2 separate regions of the Homo sapiens genome follow, and region 2 is linked to region 1. Evidence: fine-mapped expression QTL. A gene starts in region 1. The other region holds a variant in brackets. All regions are shown on one strand. Distances are between the middles of the regions. Region 1 holds the start of ANAPC2 (anaphase promoting complex subunit 2). Region 2 has its middle 5.6 kb from the start of CLIC3.

What was found.
Region 2: its variant is fine-mapped to the expression of ANAPC2 in whole blood (INTERVAL, PIP 0.98).

What each region holds. Positions count from the first base shown.
Region 1 is chr9:137,183,329-137,193,340 of GRCh38, reverse strand. It overlaps ANAPC2 (anaphase promoting complex subunit 2), which reads left to right and starts at 4,781. Exons shown (of 13, transcript NM_013366.4): 1 at 4,781-4,925; 2 at 5,238-5,860; 3 at 6,985-7,117; 4 at 8,254-8,428; 5 at 9,550-9,669. The coding sequence starts at 4,809. It overlaps SSNA1 (SS nuclear autoantigen 1), which reads right to left and starts at 4,665. Exons shown (of 3, transcript NM_003731.3): 1 at 4,563-4,665; 2 at 4,076-4,275; 3 at 2,975-3,534. The coding sequence starts at 4,614. The coding sequence ends at 3,427. It overlaps TPRN (taperin), which reads left to right. Exons shown (of 4, transcript NM_001128228.3): 2 at 650-890; 3 at 976-1,082; 4 at 1,167-1,722. The coding sequence ends at 1,229. RefSeq lists a silencer at 4,274-4,623 and an enhancer at 4,654-4,873.
Region 2 is chr9:136,997,194-137,007,205 of GRCh38, reverse strand. No RefSeq gene overlaps it. Among named protein-coding and RNA genes, the nearest start is that of CLIC3, 5.6 kb to the right of the region's middle. RefSeq lists an enhancer at 6,921-7,040. The variant AAAAG/G (reference allele first, on the strand shown) is at 6,528.

The DNA.
Region 1 (10,012 bases):
ACTCTGCACAGCCGCAGGCCAACTCTCAACTATGTTAGGTGGGTGATGGTGCCTGAGGCTACTGCCTGGCCTTGACGGCTCACAGAGGCCCCTGTTCACAGTGGGGGGTCCATGCTCTGCTGGATTGTCCAGGCATCCAGTAAGCCAGGACATGAACTTGGCTTTAGAGAGAGGCCCCAGACACCAGCAGGAGCTGCCTGGAGCCTAGAGTGCAAGGCCCCTGAGGGGACAGCCTCTTTTCCACCCTGTTCCTGCTCTAGAGCTGCTTGGTGGGAGGGGATGTGTCCACCCCAGTTTCCCCCCAGCTGGCACTCTGCCCAGACAGCAGAGCAGGAGGGGCCTGAGATGGTAGCTCCAGGAGCTGGTCTAGAGGCTTCTGGGGACCCAGAGGCTTTGGGCTCCTGGTCCTGGTCAGCGTTTGGTCCCTGGCTGGAATGGGGAGGGGAGGTTGACCCCCAGGGTGGAGGGATGGACGCCTGCAGGGTCCAGCTGGAGAGCTCTGTGCCCCCTCCTGGAGCCCCCGGAACGGTTGATGGTGTGTCTGGCGCCCCACTTGGGTCAGCCTCATCCTGAGGGCTGAACCTGAGCCCCTGGCATCACTGTGCCCATGTGGGCCCTCAGCCCTCGTTCACGTGACTCTCACTCCCAGATGAAGATCTCCTTCAACGACAAAAGCCTGCAGACCACATTTGAGTACCCTTCCGAGAGCTCCCTAGAGCAGGAGGAAGAGGTGGACCAGCAGGAGGAGGAGGAGGAGGAGGAGGAGGAAGAGGAAGAGGAGGAAGAGGGATCCGGCTCAGAGGAGAAGCCCTTTGCACTCTTCCTGCCCCGGGCCACGTTTGTGAGCAGCGTGAGACCCGAGAGCTCTCGGCTGCCAGAGGGTAGCTCAGGTGAGTGCCCACCTGGGGGACAGGCAGCCTGGGAGGGGTGGAGCCTGGTCTGTGTCCACGTCTGCATGTGCACCTCCATTCACAGGCCTGTCCAGCTACACCCCGAAGCACTCTGTGGCCTTCAGCAAGTGGCAGGAGCAGGCGCTGGAGCAGGCCCCGAGGGAGGCAGAGCCCCCGCCCGTGGAGGCCATGGTGAGATGCGGGGGAGTGGAGCGCTGGGGGGAGTCTGACACCCGGGCGAGCCCATGTGTCCACATTCTGTCCTCTCACTTTCAGCTCACACCCGCCAGTCAGAATGACCTCTCGGACTTCCGCAGCGAGCCAGCCCTGTATTTCTGAGCCCAGCACTGCCAGGACCAAGGCTGAGCCCAGCTGTGGGAGTCCCGGAAGCTGGGCAGTAGCCAGGGACTACTGCACCCGCTTCTGCCTTGTTTGGCCTCACTGTATCCCACCCACCCCTCCTGGCCCTGGAAGCAGCTAGGGTGCCTCCTGCCATCGGGGCCAGGTCTGGGTCTCACTCCCCGGCCCTGATTTGGGAGGGTCCAAGGGGGAAGTGGGGTGGGGAACTGCCTGTGGGTGAGTGCCAGGGGCCTGCTGGGTGGTGGCCATCTGCGACCCGGCAGGGGGCTGTGCAGATTCTGCACCTGGCCATTCCCTGTCCTGTCTCCTCAGCCTGCCTCACAGTGGCCATGGGGTGTCGGGGTGAAGGGCTGTCCCAGCTACTTGTCCTCTGCAGGACCCTAAGCCCCTGCCCGCAGCCCACATGCCCTCTGTGATGAGTGGCGTCTTTCCTGCCTCTGATGATGGACTCAATAAACAGCACTGGACAAGGCTGCTGGTGTCCCCACTGCGTGGTCCTTGGCTGAGAAGGGAGCAGGGGGAGGTCTCTGCAGGAAGAGGCCACATGGGGTCCAGTGGGCCCCAGTTTGCACGTCTATGCCAGGGTGTGTGGGAGGTGACCCCGATCTGGTACCCCCACTCCTTGATGTCCCAGTGGCCAAGGCTCTGACCTCCCAACTTCCATGGCCTGTTAACCTGTTGCCCCTCCACCCCAGCCTCCCAGAGCTGGCACTGTGGGAGGTAGGATGACAGGCCTGCTGTCAGGGGCCTAGACTTCAGGTGGGAGGGTGAGAGTGTTGCAGCTGTTGGGCCTGAAGTGGCTTCTCTGAGGGGCCCAGAGCCTGGGGAGGGACCAAGGGAAGGGCAGCATGAGGGCAGCACAGGGGACGGTGTCTTCTGCTGGGCTTGGCGTGCCCCCCGACCCACAGGATGAGGCAGGCCGGGAGCAGCGCCTGCCTCAGACGGCCAGAGCTGGGGCTGTTTACAGCCCATGGAACCCAAGCACCATTTCCTCCCTGGAGGATCAAACCTAAGAGCAAAGAGATAAAGAGATGCTGTCTGGCCAAACTCCGGCGGAAGGAGAGTTTGGTGTATTTCCCTGGTCGGGTTAGGCCCAGCTCTTTTCTGGACCCTCTGGATCAACACATGCCTCCCAAATCGGCCCAGTCCTCGGGCCATGCTTGGTTGCTGCAGGGACAAAACAGAGGCCCCAGGGCACATGGAAGGATGGAAGTGGCCAGTGCTTGGTGTGCGGCCAGGGAAAGGTGGGCAGCAGGGCCTGGTGGCAGCAGTGGTGTCATCAGGCCAAGCAAAACTTGCAACTGAGGAACCGACGGGGGTGGGGGGTGTGAACTCCCCCCAGTCCTTGCTGAGAGGGACCTGAATCTGAGGCAGCTGCTGGATATGCTTGGCATCCCCAGCTGTCTCTCTGGGCTGGGTCCTATGCTGGCCACCAGGGTGTGGCAGAGAACAGGACGAGCAAGCAGAGCTCCTGAGAGGAGGGTGAGCCGTGGGCCAGTCAGGGGAAGAGGACCGGCGGCCCTGCTGGGGAGGGCTCAGGGTGGGGCTGGCCTGGGGAGGGTGGGCACCCTCAGCGGTGTCCCTGAGGCTAGTGGGGCAGTCACAGGGAGGCCACTCCAGACCCTCCTCCCTCCTCTCCCAAGGGGGAGCCTCAGGCTCTGGCTCTGCAGGTGTCTGGCAGCCCCATGCTGTTGATACGGGCAAGCAGCAGGCTGGCACGGATCTTTACAAAGATAATCTTTATTCATAATCACAGGCCACAGGGGTGAGACCTGAGGTTTGGGTTCTGTGGTGAAGGAGAACCCCTGTCCTCCTGTCCCTTGCCCTGGGCCTCTGCTGGCTGAGGAGGGACAAGGTGAGGGGGCCCCCATGGTGCTCAGACAACCAGAGCCTCCCTGGCAGGGCAGGAGTGTGGGTGCCACAGAGACAAGCCCCTTGCAGAGCTGACCTGGAGCCCACCATCCCCATAGCCTGTGTGAGCATGAAGCGAGGACCCCCGGGTGGGCTGTGCCCTGGGCTTGTCACTGATGCCAGTGGAGGCTGGCACCTGCCCCTCTCGGCACCTGAGACAGTGAGGGAAGGTAGCTGCTGCCGTGAAGAACAAAGATGCTCTGAGCACACACTTGCTGGGGCTGAGCTGAGGGGCACACGGAGGCAGGCCCTGCCCGTGGTCTGGTCAGCTGTCCCTGCCGCCGCTACTTTTCTGGTCTGGGGCTGTAGCCTTGGTCAGGTTCCCAGCTTCCCTCTTGAGAACGCTGAGCAAAGTCTGGGAGCTCTCCAGGATCTGGGGCCAGAGAAGTGAGAAGGTTGTTAATGTTCACCTGTTGGTAAGGTCCTAAGCCCCAGCTGTCCTCACACTCAGGTGCTGGGACCTGGCTGGGGGTGCTGTAGCCAAGGGATCCTGTGTGGGGGAAGGCGGAAGCCCAAGGGGACTGGCAGACGGGGTGGCAGGGCCCTCTTCCCTCCGGAATCTGACCCAAAACACTTCCTCTCCACCCTCAAAGCCAGGCTGGGTTAGCACTGGCCCGTGCTGGGTGCTCTGCCCAAGACCTGGCTCTTCACACTGAGCAGAAATAACCACATGGCTAGCGAGAACCGGATAAAGACCAGGACCCAGGATGCCCCAGGCCCCACAGACAGCCCCACAGTCACTCCCACAGCAGCCTGGGTTCCTCAATGGGCCTGGCCACGCTGCCCCTGCCCGAAATGCCAGCGAGGCACAGACTGCCCACAGCCGGGAGCCCCAGCCGGTCCTGACGCCTTGCCGTGGCAACACCCCTGCCGTGCCTATCCCCTGATGCTCGGCCTGGCCTCCCGAGCTCCACCTTGAGGTAGGCGGCCTCCGTCTCCGCGATGGTCCGGTCGAACTCGTTGCGAGAGGCAATCTTGCGTGCCAGGTTCTCGTTGACGCGGGCCAGCTTCTCTGTCAGCTGCCTCACCTCATTCTGCAGCCGCTGCTTCTCGTCCTCCTCCTCCTGGATCTGCCGGCACAGCTCCTCCCGCTTCTGGCACAGCTCCTCTATGCCTGGGGGCCGGGAGGGGCGGCGCTGTGGGCCCAGGGCAGGAGCGCGGCGGCGGAGGGCGGGCCTCCTTCCACCCGAGGAAGCCAGAGTCAGGCACCACCCCCGAGCGCCCGGCGCGGGGCCTGCGAGCCAGCGAGGGCTCGGGCCACGGACACCCGGCCTCCGGCACGGAGGGCTCTGCTCAGCCGCGCGATGCCCGCAGCGAGGCGGGTCCAGGGGCACCCCGCTGCGAGCCGGGAACCCGGCCCTGCGGCCCTCCCGACCTCCCCGTCCCGGCTGCGCCGCTCACACTTGACCAGCTCGTTGTTGTAGTTCTGCAGCGCCGCGCCCTGCTGGGTCATGGTCAACGCCGCCCGGGGCCCCACCACCCCAACCGCCGCGGAAGCAGCGCTGTCCGCGCCTGCGCACGACTCCCCCACGGCGCGCCGAACTAGCGCGTCATCGCTGAGCGCCTTGTGCGCGTCATGGCTGCGCGTGCAGACGTGCGTCATCGCCGCGCGCCGCGCCGAGCGAATCTCGGAGTCGGTGGGTGCAGATGGCGGCGGCAGTTGTGGTGGCGGAGGGGGACAGCGACTCCCGGCCCGGACAGGAGTTGTTAGTGGCCTGGAACACCGTGAGCACCGGCCTGGTGCCGCCGGCTGCGCTGGGGCTGGTGAGGCCTGGGAAGAGAGGGGCGGCCCCGCGCGGAGTTTCCGGGACCGTACGCGCTTTGGGGCCGCTACCCTCGGGTTCATACGGCTCTGTCCATCATCCGCCTCTGTCCTGTCCTGCCATTTTCCACCACCTTTCCGTTTCGTTTCGTTCAGCTCCGCTGACAGCCCTTCCATAGCTTCGGCCCAACGTCCGGGCAGCACGGACAGGGGGCAGCGGAGTTTTTGCAGCCTCCCCCTCAGCTTCTTCCCTTCCCCGCCTCTCCCCACCTCTATGTTGTGTTCCCCTCGCCTCACGGTTTTCTGCACCCCAGGTGTCTTCCCGGACCAGCGGTGCAGTCCCGCCAAAGGAAGAGGAGCTCCGGGCGGCGGTGGAGGTTCTGAGGGGCCACGGGCTACACTCGGTCCTGGAGGAGTGGTTCGTGGAGGTGCTGCAGAACGATCTGCAGGCCAACATCTCCCCTGAGTTCTGGAATGCCATCTCCCAATGCGAGAACTCTGCGGATGAGCCCCAGTGCCTTTTGCTACTCCTTGACGCTTTTGGCCTGCTGGAGAGCCGCCTGGATCCCTACCTGCGTAGCCTAGAGCTGCTGGAGAAATGGACTCGCCTGGGCTTGCTGATGGGCACTGGTGCTCAGGGGCTGCGAGAAGAAGTCCACACTATGTTGCGCGGAGTCTTGTTCTTTAGCACCCCCAGAACCTTCCAAGAGATGATCCAGCGTCTGTATGGGTGCTTCTTGAGAGTCTATATGCAGAGTAAGAGGAAGGGGGAAGGGGGCACAGACCCGGAACTGGAAGGGGAGCTGGACAGCCGGTATGCCCGTCGCCGGTACTACCGGCTCCTGCAGAGCCCGCTGTGTGCAGGGTGCAGCAGTGACAAGCAACAGTGCTGGTGTCGCCAGGCTCTGGAGCAGTTCCATCAGCTCAGCCAGGTCTTGTGAGTAGTCTGTCCCGATGGCCATGCCCTTGCTCCTTCTGGTTCCCCGCTGCTCCCCTGGGTCCAGCTGGCCTCAGCAGAAAGCTGGTGAGCCGTCCTGATAACCAGGAACATGACAGAGAGAGAGTCCCAGGGATTCCTGTGCAGCGTGTCCTGGACACAGGTGTCTCTCTTCTGTCACTCACCTTCAGTCCCACAGATTCATGCCTTGACCCTGGTAAGGCCCTATGTGGCTTGTGTCTGCAGCAGCAAATTTCTTAGCAACTCCAAACTTCCTGGACTCTGCAGAATTCCACTGTGCCTTTTGTCGATCCTGGGGAGGAATGATTCTCACCCTCGTCGACATTCCTTGCCCTGTAATTGTGAACAGAAGCTTGCTGCTGCTTCTCTCCAGGAAGATCAGGTCACTGTGAGGGCAAGCAGTCTCTTGTTAGTTTGGAGAGGAGAGGGGTTTGTTGTGAGAGACAGGTCCTGTTGTAGTTCTCTAGCAATTGTCATACCCTTGGCCATTTGTGGTGGTTTTGTCACATTGAACGGGGGTGTAGCCATGCAGCTACTTGAGAGGTCTTAGGTGGACTAAAGGTGGACTAAAGGAGTGCTCCTTTTGCTGGCAGGGGTCAGGGAGACCGTGAAGGGCTTCTGTTGGGCTCATCCCTGCAAAAGTTACACGGCAACTTTTCTCATCCTCCTCTTGAGTCCTTTTGTCACTGTAGACCAGAGACTGCACTGAAAGGCACAAACAGTGGCATCTGTACCTCTGCGGCCAGGGTAGCAGTGCAGTTGGTTGTCGTTTCAGAGTTGATCCTAGGAGATAAGGCTAGGGCCCCCGACAGCCACACCTGCTGCCACTGATCACATGGGGAAGGCCAGTGTCCCTACCTGGATAGAGGCCAGCTGGGCGGGGACAGCAGAGCCTGGGAGTGCTCTGTGCTCCCAGTGGCTTCTTGAAGCCTTTGGTACAACCGCCCCCCACAGCTGAGGATTGTGGGGAGGTGTGTGCTGGGTGTGTGTGTGTGTGTGTGCTGCATGCACTCTACAGGCAGGGCAGTCCTGGCATGGGGCTGTTCTGGGCTAGAGGGGCCGGTGTGTGCTCTGGGTGCCCCATGGCCAGGGCTCTCCTCTAGACACAGGCTCAGTCTGCTGGAGCGGGTCAGTGCCGAGGCTGTGACCACCACCCTGCACCAGGTGACCCGGGAGAGGATGGAGGACCGTTGCCGGGGCGAGTACGAGCGCTCCTTCCTGCGTGAGTTCCACAAGGTGAGGACCCCTCCCTTGGGCTGTGCCCCGCTGGAGACAGGGGAGTAGGTTTCTGGCAAACCTGACACCTGGCTTCAGAAGCATCCAGAGCACGGAGGCCTGGGTGGGCCCAGACCGGGTGGTGGCTGGAGCTGTCTTGATGTGGGGTAGAGACCAGTACTTCTGGGCCCTGGTGATAGCGAGGACGCATCTGAGGTGCGCTCTTCGGATCTGCGCAGAATCCCATGGCTGCAGGCGGTATCGGGCCAGGATCCCGAGGGGGCTACCTCAGGCAGGTGTGGCGAAGCTGGGCCCACCAGAGGAGCCACTGAATGGATCCCCTTCTCCTGTTTGCTGCCCTACTTGAGTGTGGACTCGCTTGGCCGGTCCCTAATGGACTGACCTACAGCCAGCCTGCACCACAGCGGGGAGCGAGACACCCTCACATGGGGCCTCCAGGCACCTGTGCTGTTGGGGTGTGGTCTGGGGCTCTGCTCTGGGCTCCCGGAGCCATAGGGGAGCTGGGCCCAGCCATGTGGGTCCCCCCATCCTGTTCCCATGTGTCACCTGTCCTTTCCTCAGTGTTTCAGAGTCCCCCTACTGAGGTGCAGATTGGCTGTGATGTTGGGTTTTCAAAGAGGGAGGGTGTCCCCAAAGCGGTGGGCAAGAGTGGGTAGTAGGGTGGAGAGGGTGAACATCCGTGCGGTCTTGCCACTGGGTAGCAGGTCTGTGGGGCATGAGCACGCCTGGGCCCCGCGGCGGAATTGCCACCTAGAGGTTTGTGCTCGCCTGGGCCCCCCGGCTGGTCTCAAGGGCGTGTTTATCCATTTAAGTGGGGGCAAGTGTGCCCACCAGGCACAGCGCACAGGTCGTGTGTGTCTGTCATGTCTCACGCTAGGGTTGCTGCTGCCAGTGATAAGTGTGGGCACTGGCGCGTGTGAGAGGCACGAAGACTGCAGGGGGGCCGGGACGTCGCCTTTTGGGCCATCACCCACCCTGCAGGTTTTGATGTGCTCCAGCCTCCAGACGCAGGTGGCCTTCGGGCTCCCCTCGGTCCCGGCCGACAGGGTGGGTGGCCGTGAGGCTCCTCCCAGCCTCTGAGTCAGCCCGGGGCTCACCATGCCTCCCTGCAGCTCACACTAGCGTTCTCCTGACAGTGGATCGAGCGGGTGGTCGGCTGGCTCGGCAAGGTGTTCCTGCAGGACGGCCCCGCCAGGCCCGCATCTCCCGAGGCCGGCAACACCCTGCGCCGCTGGCGCTGCCACGTGCAAAGGTTCTTCTACCGCATCTACGCCAGCCTGCGCATCGAGGAGCTCTTCAGCATCGTCCGAGGTGGTCCTGCCCCGGCCCTGGGGTCCGCTCTCCCGTCTGGGGAGTCTTCCCAGGGCCTTCCCCGTGTCTCCTCTGTGTCTGCATCTGGGCTCCCTGTGCCTTCACCGTGTCTGCTCTGTGTCTGCGTCTGGGGCTCCCAGGGCCTTTGCCGTGTCTGCTCTGTGTCTGCGTCTGGGCTCCCTGTGTCTGCGTCTTGGGCTCCCTGTGCCTTCGCCGTGTCTGCTCTGTGTCTGCGTCTGGGCTCCCTGTGTCTGCGTCTGGGCTCCCTGTGCCTTCACCGTGTCTGCTCTGTCTGCGTCTGGGGCTCCCAGGGCCTTCGCCGTGTCTGCTCTGTCTGCGTCTGGGCTCCCTGTGTCTGCGTCTGGGGCTCCCAGGGCCTTCGCTGTGTCTGCTCTGTGTCTGCATCTGGGCTCCCTGTGCCTTCGCCGTGTCTGCTCTGTGTCTGCGTCTTGGGCTCCCTGTGCCTTCACCGTGTCTGCTCTGTGTCTGCGTCTGGGCTCCCTGTGTCTGCGTCTGGGCTCCCCGTGCCTTCACCGTGTCTGCTCTTTGTCTGCATCTGGGGCTCCCAGGGCCTTCGTCGTGTCTGCTCTGTGTCTGTGTCTGGGCTCCTTGTGTCTGCGTCTGGGCTCCCTGTGCCTTCGCCGTGTCTGCTCTGTGTCTGCATCTGGGGCTCCCAGGGCCTTCGCCATGTCGGCTCTGTGTCTGCATCTGGGCTCCCTGTGTCCACGTCTGGGGCTCCCTGTGCCTTCGCTGTCGCTCTTGCAGGGGGGTGCACCGGGCAGTGCTGGGACTGTCCCCACTGCGGCGTCCCCCGTGCCTGGATCAGGGCAGGTGTGGCAGATGCTGGACAGTGCTTCTGGGTGTCCACTGCTGTGCTGCCTTGGCCTTGGCTCCTGCTGGGGACTGGCCCCTGGGTGTTGCTCTGTCCACCCTGTGGCATTGTGGTCAAATGCATCAGCACGCCAGAGTGTCGGGGGGATGTCTGGTGCCTAGCAGGTGGTCTCATCATCGTCCTGGGGCTGGCAAGCACGTGTCCTTTCCCACACCGCACACACTCTGCACCAGCCTGCACGTGCGCACGCATCCATGTCTGTCCCTGAGGGATGTTCTTCTTCTTGTAGACTTCCCAGACTCCCGGCCAGCCATCGAGGACCTCAAGTACTGCCTGGAGAGGACGGACCAGAGGCAGCAGCTGCTCGTGTCCCTCAAGGCTGCCCTGGAGACTCGGCTCCTGCATCCAGGTGCTGTGTGCTGCCCGGCCACCCAGCACTCTGGGCTTAGACACTCACCAGGGGACCCATGTCCAGGGAGCCTGGGGCCTAGTCTGCCAGCCCTGGACTTGTAGGTCTAAGGAAGAAATGGGTTGAGAAGCAATTGGTGAGGTCCTTAGGGGATCTGAGGTGCCCGTCAGCTTGCTTGTTTCTTCTTTGGAGGGAGTCAGGACTGACCGGTAGGTCTGAGGTGATGAGACTTAGTTCTCTCAGAACAGACCTCCCTGCAGGGCGGGACCTGTGAACAGGTAGAGGTGGGGATGGGGGGACAAGGGAACGAGGCTGCAGTGGGGACCTGTAGACCACCTACCGG
Region 2 (10,012 bases), 190 kb after region 1:
GGTGGGGAGGATGGGCGCATCAGGTGGGTTAGCGCTCCAGAAGGCCCTGCCCCTCAGGCACAGGTGCTGGCAGGGGGTGGCTGGGTCGGTCTGGAGGAGGGAAACTGAGGCAGGGTGGTTCACCATGGTTCACTGTCCCCCTCATCCCACCCTCAGGGGTTGCTCCCGGCCCCCTTCCCCTTAGCCTTCATCTTCCCGTCCACCTGCCCTCTCTAAGCCTCCTTCACCCCTTGCTGCCCACGTGGGGCCTGCAGCAGCCTGGGCTAGGCTGTCTCCGTGTCATGGAAGGGACAGCGAGGGCTTCCAGGAAGAGGCGACCTCCAGGAGGAGACCGAAGTCTGTGAAGATTCCTTAAGGGAAGGGCATCCCAGCCAGAGGGCAGGGCACAGGCCAAGGCCCCAGGGAGGCAGGACCTGGAAGCTTTGAGGCTCATCAGCGGTGGAGCCTGGCACACTGTGGGCAGGAGATGGGGGAGGGGCATGAATGGCCCCCAGAGCTCACGCCCCGTGATCTGGGCCAAGTTCAGACTCTTGCCTTAGGCCGTTTCAAGGCTCCTCAGGAGGGTAGAGGGTGGACTCACTGAGGGCTGGTGCCACATGGGGGACAACAGGGGAGGGGCCCATGGGCTTGAGGGCACTGGGTGGGCTGGGCCAACACATCCACTTGGGTTCCTATGAGGCACTCACTGTGACCACCTGAGAGGCAGTGGGATGACCATGCTGGAGTCCCTGAGAGGCTGGGTCACTGGGGTGAAGCTGTCCTGGGCCCTGGGGGCGGTTCACTCTGGAAGAACCGAGAGGAACAGTGGCTCACTGGAGGGGCTGGTGTGGGTTTGGTGGTCGGCCAAGGGAAATGCGTGGGGGAGCCGCCAGAAGGCAGGAGGCCGCAGCAGCCTCCGTCCTGCAACTGTAGGGGCTGAATCATGGCAGAAAGAGGTCGAGAAAGGAACACGGCCCAGCCGAGGCCCAGGGAGACCCTGCGCGCAGGACCAGGCCAGGCTGGACCTGGACAGCCGCCCACAGACTGACACAGTTCACGGGGGCATCGTCCCTAGAGGTTTCATTTTCATGATGTGTAATGCAGCATTGAAAGCAAACACACCCCCCAGCATCTTCCTCAGAACATTTTCCGCCGAGCACGGTGGCTCACGCCTGTAATCCCAGCACTTCGGGAGGCCGAGGCAGGTGGATCATCTGAGGTCAGGAGTTCGAGACCAGCCTGGCCAACATGGTGAAACCCCATCTCTACTAAAACTACAAAAATTAGCTGGGTGTGGTGGTGGGCGCCTGTATTCCCAGCTGCTCGGGAGGCTGAGGCAGAAGAATCACTTGAACCTGGCAGGTAGAGGCTGCAGTGAGCCAAGATCGTGCCATTGCACTCCAGCCTGGATGACAGAGTGAGACTCTGTCTCAAAACAACAGCAAAAAGAACATTTTAAACTTTCAGGAAAGTTGCGAGAATAGCAGAGCGCACGCCGCATCTTCAGCCGATGCGCCTGTGAAATCTTGCCACACGCACCGTCGCTCTACCCACTTTTGTGCTGCCCCATGTGAAAGCAAGCAGCTGTGACCTGCCAGCCCCGGCCCTGCAGCCTCCTTCCCCCAAGAGCCGCCAGGGTAGCCCAGAGTTAACAAAGGGTACAGCAAGGCTTTTCAGGGCCCCGGTGGCCCAGGCATGCCCTTTTTTATTTTTTATTATTATTTGTTTGAGGAGACGGAGTCTCACTCTCTTGCCCAGGCTGGAGTGGGGCACAATCTCGGCTCACTGCAAGCTCCGCCTCCCGGGTTCACACCATTCTCCTGCCTCAGCCTCCTGCGTAGCTAGGACTACAGGCGCGCATCACCATGCCCGGCTGATTTTTGTGTGTGTGTGTGTGTTTTTAGTAGAGATGAGGTTTCACCATGTTGGCCAGGCTGGTCTCTAACTCCTGACCTCAGGTGATTGCCCCAGCCTCAGCCTTCCAAAGTGCTGGGATGACAGGTGTGAACCACCGCGCCTGGCCAATTTTTGTATTTTTAGTAGAGATGGGGTTTCACCATGTTGGCCAGGTTGGTCTCGTGTAGGGACCAGCCCCACAGGGTCGGTGGGTCTCTCCCCATGTGCGGTGACGAGACAGTGTAGAAATAAAGACACAAGACAAAGAGATAAAAGACAGCTGGGCCCGGGGGACCACTAACACCAATGCGTGGAGACCAGTAGTGGCCCCGAATGTCTGGCTGCACTGTTATTTATTGGATACAAGGCAGAAGGGGCAGGATAAGGAGTGTGAGCCATCTCCAATGATAGGTAAGGTCACGTGGGTCACGTGTCCACTGGACGGGGGCCCTTCCCTGCCTGGCAGCCAAGGCAGAGAGAGAGAGAAGAGACAGAGAGAAAGACAGCTTATGCCATTATTTCTGCATATCAGGGACTATTAGTATTTTCACTAATTGACTACTGCTATCTAGAAGGCAGAGCCAGGTGTACAGGATGGAACATGAAGGCGGACTAGGAGCGTGACCACTGAAGCACAGCATCACAGGAGACGGTTAGGCCTCCGGATAACTGCGGGCAGGTCTGACTGATGTCAGGCCCTCCACAAGAGGTGGAGCAGAGTCTTCTCTAAACTCCCCCGGGGACAGGGAGACTCCCTTTCCTGGTCTGCTAAGTAGCGGGTGTTGTTCCTTGACACCTTTTGCTACCGCTGGACCACGGTCCGCCTGGCAACGGGCGTCTTCCCAGACGCTGGCGTCACCGCTAGACCAAGGAGCCCTCTGGTGGCCCTGTCCGGGCATAACAGAAGGCTCGCACTCTTGTCTTCCGGTCACACCTCACTATGTCCCCTCAGCTCCTATCTCTGTATGGCCTGGTTTTTCCTAGGCTATGATTATAGAGCGAGGATTATTATAATATTGGAATAAAAAGTAATTGCTACAAACTAATGATTAATGATATTCATATATAATCATATCTAAGTTCTATATCTGGTATAACTATTCTTGTTTTATATTTTATTATACTGGAACAGCTCATGTCCTCGGTCTCTTGCCTTGGTGCCTGGGTAGCTTGCCGCCCACAGTCTCGAACTCCTGACCTCAGGTGATCACCCAGCCTTGGCCTCTCAAAGTGTTGGGATTACAGATGTGTGCCACCATGCCCAGCCAATTTTTGTATTTTTAGTAGAGATGGGGTTTCACCATGTTGGCCAGGCTGGTCTTGAACTCCTGACCTCAGGTGATCGCCTAGCCTCGGCCTCTCAAAGTGTTGAGATTGCAGGCGTGAGCCACCGTGCCTGACCAATTTTTGTATTTTTAGTAGAGATGGGGGTTTCACCATGTTGGCCAGGCTGGTCTCGAACTCCCAACCTCAGGTGATCTCCCAGCCTCGGCCTCCCAAAGTGCTGGGATGACAGATGTGAGCCACTGCACCCGGCCCTAGGCATGCTCTTTAGAGTTTTTCCAAAAAACCAGGATCAGCCAGGTGCTGTGGCTCAAGCCTGTCATCCCAGCACTTTGAGAGGCTGAGGTAGGCAGGTCACCTGAAATCAGGAGTTCAGCTTGGCCAACATGGCGAAACCCCATCTCTACTAAATATACAAAATTAGCTGGGCATTGTAGCGCCTGTAATCCCAGCTACATGGGAGACTGAGGCAGGAGAATCACTAGAATCTGGGAGGCGGAGGTTGCAGTGAGCAGCGCTCCAGCCTGGGTGACAGAGTGAGACTCCGTCTCAAAAAAAAAAAAAAAAGAAAGAAAGAAAAGGCTGGGCATGGTTGCTCACACCTGTAATCCCAGCACTTTGAGAGGCCGAGGCGGGTGGATCACTTGAGGTTGGGAGTTCAAGACCAGGCTGACCAATATGGAGAAACCCTGTCTCTACTGAAAATACAAAATTAGCCGGGTGTGGTGGCACATGCCTGTAATCCCAGCTACTCGGGAGGCTGAGGCAGGAGAATCGCTTGAACCTGGGAGGTGGAGGTTGCGGTGAGCTGAGGTTGTGCCACTGCATTCCAGCCTCAGCGACAGAGTGAGACTCTGTCTCAAACAAACAAACAAAAAAAGGAAATAAAAATCCAGGATCCAACCACGAGGCACTCCTTGTGTCTTGCTGCCTTCCCCGGGGCCCCTCTGAGCCGTCCCCAGCCTTGGCGTTCTTGCCCTTCCAGGGGGACAGGCTCCGCAGGCCCAGGCTGAGCTCTGGATGTGTCTTCATTTCCTCCTGGCTGGATGCAGGTTGGACATTTTTGGCCGGAGCAGCACTGGGACACGCTGTGTCGGTCACCTCCAGGTGTCCATCTGTCCCTCAGCAGGTGATGCTGAATGTGGCCGCCTGGTTGAGGCCCAGTTCTCCCTCCCTTAGATGTGGGAACGCAATCTGGGTGCTGCGTGGCCGCGCCCCCCGACCCCCGTCACCCAGGGCCAGCAGCTGCAAAATGGCCATTTCCTGCCTCTATTCCATTTCTGCATCTACTGGCTGGCATTTCTCTCTCACCAAGGGCCCCTCCACTTTAAAAAGTCTATCAGTACAGACTTGCAGGTTTAAAAAAATTAATGTGTTAACATGCATTACTGTCATCTTTTAATTACTTATTTTGAGACAGGGTCTTGCTCTGTCACCCAGGCTGGAGTGTGGTGGTGCAATCATAGCTCACTGCAGCCTCCAACTCCTGGGCTCAAGTGATCCTCCTGCCTCAGCCTCCTTACAGGCATGTGCCACCACACACGACTAATTTTTATTTTTATTTTTGTATAGATAGGGTCTTGCTATATTGCCCAGGCTGGTCTTCAACTCCTGAGCTCAAGGGATTCTCCCACTTCAGCCTCCCAGAGTGTTGGGATTACAGGGGTGAGCCACTGCATCTGGCTCTTTTAAAATTTTTTGATGGTGGTAAAATCTATGTAACATTTATCACGTTAACCATTCATAACGCACAATCCACTGTTGTCTTATGCTCAGATGGCCTGAGGTCCAGCCAGCGGTGCCCCTCCAGCAGGCGCCCCTCCAGCACGGCTTCTGTGTCTTCGTAACCAGCTCCTGATGTGTTTTGAGTGCGTCCCTGCCTTCCCTGCCCCACACCTGGAATCAGCCTCTCTCCAAGGAGCCTGTCTCAGTCCGACCAGGACTGCTGTGCAAAGGACCCTGGACGGGTGGCATTCATGCCTCACAGCTCTGGAGGCTCGAAGTCCGAGGTCGGGACGCCAGCATGGCTGGGTTCTGGCGAGGGCTCTTCTGGGTTGTGGACTTCCCTTGACTCCTCACCTGGCAGGAGGAGCGAGGGAGCTCTCCGGGGTCCCTTTTATGAGGGCGCTGATTCTGGTCATCTCGAGGGTGTCACCTTCATGACCTACCCACCTCCAAAAGACCCCGCTTCTTTTTTTTTTTTTTTTTTTTGAGTCTCGATCTGTCACCAGGCTGGAGTGCAGTGGCGCAATCTTGGCTCACTGCAAGCTCCGCCTCCTGGGTTCATGCCATTCTCCTGCCTCAGCCTCCTGAGTAGCTGGGACTACAGGCGCCTGACACCACGCCCGGCTAATTTTTTGTATTTTTAGTAGAGATGGGGTTTCACCATGTTAGCCAGGATGGTCTCGATCTCCTGACCTTGTGATCCGCCTGCCTCGGCCTCCCAAGGTGCTGGGATTACAGGCTTGAGCCACCGCGCCCAGCCAACCCCACTTCTTAACACCATCACCTTGCAGGAGACAGGGTTTTGTTTTGTTTTTTTTTTTTTTTTTGAGACAGAGTCTCGCTTTGTCACCCAGGCTGGAGTGCAATGGAGTGATCTCGGCTCACCGGAAACTTTGCCTCCCAGGTTCAAGCGATTCTCCTGCCTTAGCCTCCCGAGTAGCTGGGATTACAGGCATGTGCCACCACGCCCGGCTAATTTTGCATTTTTAGTAGAGACAGGGTTTCCCCATTTTGGTCTGGCTGGTCTGGAACTCCCAACCTCAGGTGATCCACTCACCTCGGCCTCCCAAAGTGCTGGGATTACAGGCGTGAGCCATGTGCCTGGCCTAGGGGCCAGGGTTTCAACACACAAATTTTGGGGAGGACACATTCAGTCCCTAGCAGAACCCTGGTTCCTTTTAGGGAAGATGGGCTTTGGGACCAGAATCTGAGCTCTGGTCTGCACACTGCTCCCGAGGTCTCGCTGCCCCCGAGGTCCCGCCGCCCCCGAGGTCCCGCCGCCCCCGAGGTCTCGCCGCCCCCGAGGTCACGCCGCCCCCGATGTCTCGCCGCCCCCGAGGTCTCACCGCTCCCGAGGTCTCACTGCTTCTAGGCTCTCTCCATGCACAGAGCAGATAAATCTCTGCACAAGTTTGCACCAATACCCCAATGCCCCCAGCCCTCCGGCCCCCCAAACAGGTGTGTGTCTCCCTTCAGAACAGAGCTGCTCAAATGTCACTGGGGTGTGGCCCTGTGCAGGCGGAGGCAGGAGGATCACTGGAGCCCAGGAGGTGGAGGCTGCAGTGAGCTATGACTGCGCCATTGCACTCCAGCCTGGGTGACAGAGTGAAACCCTGTCTCAAAAAAAAAAAAAAAAAAAAAAA[AAAAG/G]AGCCCCTTGGAAGGGGCCTACAGGGAGGGGTGTTGGGGAGGGAGAGAGTTCTAACCCACCAGTCAGTCAGTCCCAGAGCAGCAGCCTCGGGACCTCAGCTTGGGCCCCTCTAACGCTGGCTCTATGAATCAGGAGCAGGGGCTGCAGGGGACGGGAGGTTTAGGGATAACCCCGTGGCCTCGGGGACCAGGGTCTAGTTAAGGTTAGTGGCTGTGATACTGTTCTTACTTCAAAACATTATGAAATTGTGGTAGAAAATGTGGTATTACAAAAATGTGGTAGAAAATGCAAACAGTGTGGACAGACAGGAAGCAAAACTGAAAGCCTGTTTCTGCCTGTCAGGGGTCATCCCACAGACAGCTCCTTGCGTCTTTTTTCAGCTCTGTTCAAGTAGAGACTCAGAATGACAGATCCTAATGCTGATTTTCTTCCATTTCCTGGCTTCTCCCTGCTTTACTTATTAGCTTGCTGGCGCTGCCATGCAAAGGACCACAAAGTGAGGGGTTTAAAACAACAGAAACTGACTTTGGGAGGCCGAGGTGGGCGGATCACTTGAGGTCAGGAGTTTGAGACCAGCCTGACCAACATGGTGAAACCCCGTCTCTACTAAAAATACAAAAATTAGCCAGGCGTGGTGGTGGGCGCCTGTAATCCCAGCTACTCGGGAGGCTGGGGCAGGAGAATCGCTTCAGCCGGTGAGGCGCGGGTTGCAATGAGCCGAGATTGAGCCATTGCACTCCAGCCTGGGTGACAGTGAGACTCCATCTTAAAACAACAACACCGCGGGGCGCGGGAGCTCACGCCTGTAATCCCAGCACTTTGGGAGGCCGAGGCGAGCGGATCACGAGGTCAGGAGATCGAGACCATCCTGGCTAACGCAGTGAAACCCCGTCTCTACTAAAAATACAAAAATTAGCCAGGTGTGGTAGCGGGCGCCTGTAGTCCCAGCTACTTGGGAGGCTGAGACAGGAGAATGGCGTGAACCTGGGGAGGCAGAACTTGCAGTGAGCCGAGATTGTGCCACTGCACTCCAGCCTGGGCGACAGAGCAAGACTGCATCTCATTAAAAAAAAAAAACAAAAAAAACAGAAGCTCACTGCCTAGCAGTCTGGAGGTCAGACATAGCACCTAGGCTTGGGCAGGGCTGCTTCCTCCCAAGGGCCTTGGAGAGCATCCGCTTGGCTCCCAGGCTTACAGATGTGCCACCCTGATTTCTGCCTGCGGCCCTCCCTGTGCATCTGTGTCCAAACTCGCCTTTCTATACTGACATCAGTCATATTGGATCAGGGCACATCCTACTCACCACATTTTAACTTGATAACTTCTATAAAGACCCTATTTCAGCCGGGTGCGGTGGCTCACACCTGTATTCCCAGCATTTTGGGAGGCCAAGGTGGGTAGATCTTCTGAGGTCAGGAGTTCGAGACCAGCCTGATCAACATGGTGAAACCCTGTCTCTACTACAAATACAAGGAAAAAAAAAAAAAGCTCAGCGTGGTGACGTGTACCTGTAATCCCAGCTACTCCAGAGGCTGAGAAAGTAGAATTGCTTGAACCCAGGAGGCAGAAGTTGCAGTGAGCCGAGATTGCACCACTGCATTCCAGCCTGGGCAACAGAGCAAGACTCTGTCTCAAAAAAAATGTTAAAAAGCCCCTGTTTCCACATAAGGTCACATTCTTTATTTTTTTTCCAAGATGGAGTCTTGCTCTGTTGCCCAGGCTGGAATGCAGTGGCACTATCTCTGCTCACTGCAACTCTGTCTCCCGGGTTCAAGCACTTCTCCTGCCTCAGCTTCCCGAGTAGCTGGGATTACAGGTGCCTGCCACTATGCCTGGCTAATTTTTGTATTTTTAGTAGAGACGGGGTTTCACCATGTTGGTCAGGCTGGTCTCAAACTCCTGACCTCAGGTGATCCACCCCCCTCGGCCTCCCAGACTGCTGGGATTACAGGCATGAGTCACCGTGCCCGGCCCATATAAGGTCACATTCTGAGGCACTAGGGGTTAGGACTCCAGCCTAAGAATTTAAATTTAAGGGGACACAAGCCACGCCATTTACCTAATCTCAGGCCCTCCCTGCAGTGGGCATGCATGGAGTCACCTTTTCCGTCCTTCTCCCTGGACACAACTGGAGTCTCCCATAGACAGGGTGGTGGCCGTGCCACGGAGCCACGCCACGCCACGCCACGCCACGCAGTGGGGCAGCCAGCACTCACTTGCCCTTCACAGGGAAACCGGCCGGGTGTGGCAGCTCGCGCCTGTAGTTCCAGCACTGTGGGAGACCAAGGCAGGTGGGTCACTTGAGCCCATGAGGTGGAGACCAGCCTGGGCAACATGGCAGGACCCTGTTTCTAGTAAATAAATGAATTGATTAAACCATAAAAAAAAAAGGAAGCCACCGGGCTGATTCCCAGGTGGCGAGGGCACAGGGGGGTGTTGGATGGCCACTGCCGCTCCACAGTCCACAGCCCACGCCCACAGAACGCAGTGGGGCCGCTGCAGCGGTGAACCGAGTCTTGTTGGTTTGTTTCTTGAGACGGGCGTGAGGTGAATGGTCTTCCTGTGTCTTGTTTTCTTTTTCCTTCTGAGCCACCGGTTCACGGCCTCTGTCCGTGCCGTCATTTTTCCTGTGGGTTTGTGAGGGTGCGTCTGTCGGTGTTAAAGACACAGGATGCCGGGGCAGCAGAGGGGGCTGGGGGCCTGGGGCTTCTCTGTGGTTGGCCATTTGCCTGCCAGGGATGTGGGAAACCAGCAAGCGGAGCTATAACCACAGTGTCCAGAAAGAGCTGAAATACTAGGGCTTGGAATCGAGGTGGAGGCCGGATGGAGGGAAATTGAGGTTCAGGACACCAAAGGATGGGGCAGCCACATGGTATTTCCAAGGCTCTGTGTCCAGGAGCCCCGACTGGCGTGGTATCCAGAGAAGCATCAGGCTGGGCTGACTGGGGCAGCACTGGAGTGTGTTCCACCGGGGACGGATGAGGGGCCCGTACCAAGGCCCTGGGGAGAAGGTGAGCAGGAGAGCAGTGCCACCTCAGCTGCCCTGTCCAGGCTGGTGAGGCACCACACCGCCTGGGGGAGGTGTGGCCAGGCCAATCCTGTGGGCACCCCAGGTCTCTGGGTGGAATCTCCCCTCGGTGTACCTCCCTGGGGCTGCACCCTAAAGCGTCAGGGCCAGGTGGGAGGAAGGCACAGTTGGCGACCCCAAAGGGCCAGACTGAACTGTGGGTTCCAATCACGCCAGGAGGCTCAGCGCAGGCTCACACCTGTGGACCACCACCCTCCCCTGGCCTCTTTCTTCCAGCCACGCAGGCTGTGGCTTCTAACCCCTCTCCTGCTGCTTCTTTTTAAAGGTTAAGGGGTTGGGGGTAAGAAACCTGCGCTGAGCGCCAGTGGGAGGGATGGGAGGTGGGGTGGAGACCTGCACTGCCGGCCAAACACCAAAGCCAGGCTGGCCTCCCCGCCCTGTTGCGGGCAGGT